Linked DNA regions of Homo sapiens: region 1 is linked to region 2. The links come from fine-mapping of genetic effects on plasma protein levels. A gene starts in region 2. The other region holds a variant in brackets. All regions are shown on one strand. Distances are from middle to middle. Region 1 has its middle 1.7 kb from the start of MIR4708. Region 2 holds the start of FUT8 (fucosyltransferase 8).

Evidence for each region. PIP is the posterior inclusion probability: the model's chance that the variant is causal. The UK Biobank Pharma Proteomics Project read protein levels with antibody pairs (Olink). The fine-mapping took linkage between variants from a reference panel, not from the people measured, so its PIPs are less certain.
Region 1: its variant is fine-mapped to the plasma level of the FUT8 protein (UK Biobank, PIP above 0.99).

Annotation. Positions count from the first base shown.
Region 1 is chr14:65,332,006-65,334,920 of GRCh38, forward strand. No RefSeq gene overlaps it. Among named protein-coding and RNA genes, the nearest start is that of MIR4708, 1.7 kb to the right of the region's middle. The variant A/C (reference allele first, on the strand shown) is at 1,598.
Region 2 is chr14:65,412,502-65,415,353 of GRCh38, forward strand. FUT8 (fucosyltransferase 8) reads left to right here and starts at 229. Exons shown (of 11, transcript NM_001371533.1): 1 at 229-713. FUT8-AS1 (FUT8 antisense RNA 1) reads right to left here and starts at 116. Exons shown (of 1, transcript NR_024334.1): 1 at 1-116. RefSeq lists silencers at 268-427, 728-847, 858-1,047 and an enhancer at 970-1,534.

The DNA of each region.
Region 1 (2,915 bases), 80 kb before region 2:
CCTAAAATGTATGAAACCAAGCTGTGCCCCGACCACCTTGGGCACATGTCATGGGACTTCCTGAGGCTGTGTCACGGGTGCATCCTTAACCTTGAAAAAATAAAGTTTCTAAATTGAGACCTGTCTCAGATATTTGGGGTTCACAACCTAAATTAATGAGATTCTGAAGAGATGATTAAATATAGAGTTTGTAACCATAATCGTTTCATTGCCCAATGTGCATAGCAAGTCAATACGCTGAAACACCTAGTTGCAAGAGAGAAAGAGGTTTAATTGTAGGGCAGCTGAATGTGATGGGAGGAAACCTCAAATCAGTCTCTCCAAGGAATTTGGGTCTAGAATTTTTAGTGATTTTGGAGTGGGCTGAAGTGTGGAGATCTTTGCTTGGCCCAAGGGTGCAGGATGAAGTCATAGAACAGGGAGATGAAGAAACTATATTCTCATGCTGATTCTGCTCTCCTCTGGGGGTCTTCAAACTTGTTGGCATCAGCTCAAATTTGGGATCTGAAAAACATCTTAAGCAATTCTTAAACAAAAGCCTTATGATTCTAATGTCAGAGATTCTATCTATCTTAATCAGAGGCCTGATGATTCTAACCTCAGACAGAAATACTATCTGTAGGAACAATGAGGATGCAAGTGGTCAGGATCTAGTACTCCACAACTTTCACTTCCTGTTGTTACAAGGAAGTGAGCCACAGTGCAGCCTAATTAATGCTTAATCATAACTATATTTCTGTCCAGAATTCTTGTTAACATGGTGAAGATGGCTTCAAGTTTATTCAAGCTCAAAGCTTGAGGGTGGCCACCCAAGAGCATAGATTCAAGTTGCCCTAAACCCACACTCTGATTAGAAATAGCTACAAGAGGATTTTTAAGGAATAAAGAAGAGGCAGCTCCTAAATTGTTTACCAAGAATTTATACTAAAATAACATAAGCTATTGATTGGGTATGTGTTATTCTTTGCATCACAAATTCCAACATGAAGATAATGGGTAAGGCAGTTAAGCAGGAACAAAATGCCTTTACACAGTTGCCCTGGACATGGGCGCAGAGATGTGACTGAAGTCCCATACTCCTGTCTCTCCAGGCTTGATAAATTTTGTATACTTCACATAGCTCAGACTGATCTGAGCTATTTTTCTTTCTCAGCGGAGTCTCCGTAGTCTCCGTAATTCAGAGGCACACCAAAATTTGAAAGCCAGCTCTACCACTGACTAATTGTGTGATTTTGGACAAATTAGTTCATCTCCTAGTATCTCAGTTTCCTCATTTGCTAAATGGGGAAAATAACAGCTCCAACATCATTGAGCTGTTGTGGAAATTAAATTAATTTAAAATGAAAGCACTTGGAAGAGTACTTGGCACATAATAAATGCTCAATAAGTGTTAAAGATTGCTACTTTTCCTGTCCCTTAGCAACTAAAAAATATCTTTTAAGGAGCGCCATTTCCTGGACATACTACAAAAAAGGGGAATTGCCTGCATTTACATAGATTTTTTGATAGTTGATGTCTCTGAGAGCAATATTCTTTTAGCCCCTTCTCTAAATCCAGGTTTATGCCTAATTTAGATCCCACGGTCTCCTGTGGTCCT[A/C]ACCACCTTGTGAACATGTTATGAAGGTAAATTGAAGTTAATCTAGGGATGGAATGATGAGAGCAGGTAAAAGATAAATAGTTCAATGGTTCTCAACCTTGGCTATACCTTATAATTATCTGGAGAGCTTTAAACAATGCCCAAGTCAGCTGGGCATGGTTGCTCACGCCTATAATCCCAGCTCTTTGGGAGGCTGAGTCAGGAGGACTGCTTGAGGCCAGGAGTTTGAGACCAGCTAGGCAACATGGTAAGACCCCCTCTCTATTATATATTAAAAATAATTTTTAAAAAATGCCTAAGTCACACCCCAGACCAATTAATATCAGAATCTGTGGGAACAGGGCTCAGCTATCAGTCTATTTTAATCTCCAGATGATTCCAGTGTGTAGCCACTGGCCTCATCTTAGCTCGGCTGAGCTGGTGAGACCCAGTAATCTGTATTCTAACAAGCCTTCTGCAAATCTCAGGACCTTTGGTGTGAACCATCCCATCATCCTCCCAATGTCCAGGCCTCTGATTTCACTTCTCTGCCCAGTGGGTGTGACTTGAAAGCAAGAGAGGAGGTGCAACAACCCTTAGTTTCTGTAAGAAGGTACAAGGAGACCAGTTCTGTATATCAAATCCTGGTTTATTCTAGCCAGACCTGTCTTAGGGACAATGATGGTCTTTCAGCCTAAATGCTTGCTTCTCAGGAAGCAGGTGAGCCAATGAAGGGCCCCACTCTCTCCAAGTGGAGACTATAGCATTTGCCTAAAATACCCCTTCTCTCCAGTCCTAACTGTCCTGGAAGCTTCTCAGAGGCCAAATATGTAAACAAGTTCCAAACCAACACATCTGCTTTTCATTTCCTGCGGAATGCTAAAACGAGTCTTTTAAGGTTGCTTAAAATATGTTCTCTCCTCCCGCCCCACCCCCCAGGGCATTTGCTGTGCGTCCTCAGACCACCTCAGCTCCTCCTTCCCTACACCTGGGACTCTTCTGCGCAGACTTGGCTTCAAACAAGGCTCACGGTTCTTCCTGGCATTTGCTTTTTTGGCTTAGCGAGTGCACATTCAATATCTTTTTCTTCTTTTTCTTGAAAGCACTGTCTTCAGTCTCCTCACTTGTCCCTTTCTCCTCTGGCAAGCGTAATGCTATCAACATTTGAAAGTGGCCTGATTCCCTGGTGTCTGGTAAATGGCCTTGCTGGTGAACTTCTTTAGGAGAACTGCAAAGAAACTAGAGCAGGGGCTAAAGAGAGCTGCTCTCTTGGGGCTCAGATGCCCCTCCTGGGGCCCCACCTCACACTAGGTGGGTTTCCTTCCTAAATTTGAGCAAC
Region 2 (2,852 bases):
GCGAGCCGGAGCCGGCGTGCGCAGCCGCTGCCCTGCTGGAACTGTGCCGTCCCGCTGTGGCCCGCGGCTCTGCTAGGCGGTGGATGCTGCTGCTACGCTCTCCACCGGCGCAGCGAGGAAGGGGGCGGGGAGAATCCCTGGCACATGCCAGGGTCGCCGTAGGTGGCAGCGGCCGGCGCATGCGCGCCCTCTCCCAGAAGCCAGGAACGCCGAGGGGCGCGCTCCCCCATTCGCGCGCGCACGCCGGCGCTGGCCGAGGCTTCCCCGCCTGCGCTCGTTGTCAGAGCCGCTCCGGCGCGTGCGCGCGTTATCTCCGGCCGACCCGAGCAGCCGGTTCCCTCCTCTCCAGGCCCCCTCCCCATCCCACCCCCGCCGCCTGGCCCCAGCCGACCCGTCCCTTCGTCTCCCCGCGGAATGGGGCCGGCACTGCTCAGGGTCGCGCGCCCTGGACCCAGCTCGCTCTCGGTCTCGCGCTGTCAGCGACTGCCCGGCTCGCGCCGCCTCGCGCTCTGCCTCAGTCAGTGGCGCCGAAGGCTCCGTTAAGCGGCGGCGGCGGTTCCTGTTTCCGTTTCTTCCTCTCCGTTCGGTCGGGAGTAGCATCCTCCACTCAGCCACCCTTCCCACTCCCCCATCGTGGGGCAGCTGCGGCTGAGGGCTGTGGCTTTGGCAGCTGCGACGGGGAGCGGCGGAGACCGCCTCTGCTCCCGCCTGGGGTAAGGGGGCGTTTTGGGAGCCGGGCCCCGCGCGCCTCGGGGTCTTGGGCTGGGCTGCGCGCGGGATCTGAGGAGGCTCCGCGGCTGTCCCTGCTCGTTCACCCGGGCCTGTTGCTGCAACTGCTGCCGGTTAACCAGCGGCTCTCGGAAAAGTGGGGAGGGAGCCCCCGGGACGCTCTGGCGGATGCCTTGGCGCAGCCCCGGGGGCGCGGGCAGAGGGTGAGGGGCGCCCGCCTCTCCAGCCGGGACGCGGAGCTGCGCCGCTGCTGCCCTCGGCGTCGCGCATCCTTGCCTAGGGCAGGGGCCAAAGCCTAGGGAAGGAGAAGGGTTGGGGGCGGGGGTGGGAGGTGTCCGTCGTTTCCCCTCCACACCTACCTTCCCTTCGTCAGCAGCTCGGTCCCTGGAGTCGCGGTTTGTGGGGAGGAAGATGCCCGTGCGTTATGGGCTCTTTCTGAGTGCTGCTCGGGCTAGAAAGCAGGGAGTGGACCCTCACAAAGATCCGCGAGGGACTGATGCAGGGCAGTTAAAGGCTTGAGTGCAGCTGTACTCCCTTTTGATGTGCAAATGACGAGCTGGCGGCTTTTGAGTATCAACTTATTTGGGAAGGTTAAATGAGTCCATATTTATCAGTTCTAGGAGGTTTGTCCTGCAGGATTGAGTGGGTTGTCGGGTGCAGCACCTGTTCTTTCTTCACAGTGGGGATTGCAATCTTCAGAGACGCAGTGTATTTCTTAAGTGGCAGTGTCATGCTTAGGGTTTGTCCCGGATGAGCTTTTATTTTAGCATTTTGCCATATAATATATAGATTGAGGCCTTGGTTAAAGGCACGGACAGGTGGTGTTTTTTTCCTTCCTATGTTTTAATTATTCACAGTTTATTTAAACCCACTCAGGAAGGTGGACCCAGAAAAGCCAAATTCTGTAGTACATAACCCCAAATTTCAAGGTTTTGCGGAACAAATTCAACACAAGTTTTGTGTCAGTTTAGAGTTAAACGCATCTCAAGTAACTGACTTAACTGGCTTGCCTCTATGAAAACTGTAGGCAGGTTTCATTATAGATTTTTTTTTTCTTGTTATTCCGGCGGTTAGGTGCATGTTTATTTTCTTGATTAAATTTACATTCTATGTTTTATGACTAATTCTTTAAATAGGTGCATCATATAGAAAGTATTTTAGGAGAGAAATTATTATTTAAGCACTACAGTATATCAGATATATGAGAAATAATGGAGTTGTAGTCTCTGCTCTTTAAAATAACTGTAAAAACATCTTAAAACCCTATGCCAAATAATAAGGCCCTGTACCTTGCTGTCCTTGTGAAATCTGGTATGTGTATAGAAAATCTTAATTACTTGATTTGTAAATACTACAGTAGTATTGAAAAGGTGGGAATTCAAGCATTTGTAATTGTGATTTCACAGGTTTAGTGTGTAAAAAATGCAGGGAGTTAGAGATGAATAGGCTATAAGACACGTACAAAGGTAGTTCCAAGACATGGATTTTCTTTTTGCTGCCTTATAAATTGAGAATTCTATTTGAATTCAAGAGCTGAACAGCTGGAATGAAACTTGCATAGATTGCAGAAACAGATGCAAAAATGTATCTTTGGTCAAGTTGTGAGTTAACTTGAAGAGTGTCTTGTGTAATAGGATAGTGATTCAAAATAATTTCCATAAAGTACGGCCTTATATAGGTTATATTTTGAGGATATTTTTGAATTTAAAAAGTCACCTGAAGTTGTTTTCCTACAAATCAGTTCTGTTTAAGATGTATGGAATCGAAAAAAACAAAACAAAACTAATTCTGATTACATCCTGCATTGTTTTGTTGCAAATTCTTACCAGTTATTTTTACGCAATTGGAGTGTCCTTAAAAGTGGTGAATCTTAAAATTTGCCAGTGGATTGGAAAAAACTGTTAACTTATTATTTTTAAAAATGCTGTTATATTAGTACATTGGTCTGGAGGGGGAGCTAGTGCCAAAGCAAAGTATAGCTTAATAGCTGTTTGAACTTTTAAAACACCCAAAACCAGATTTTTATGACCAAAAGAAACATAAATTTTTAATTAAAAGAGTAGGAAATTGATGTGGGCATATATATGTACATAGTTATTTGTGGAGTGAATATATTGTGTATT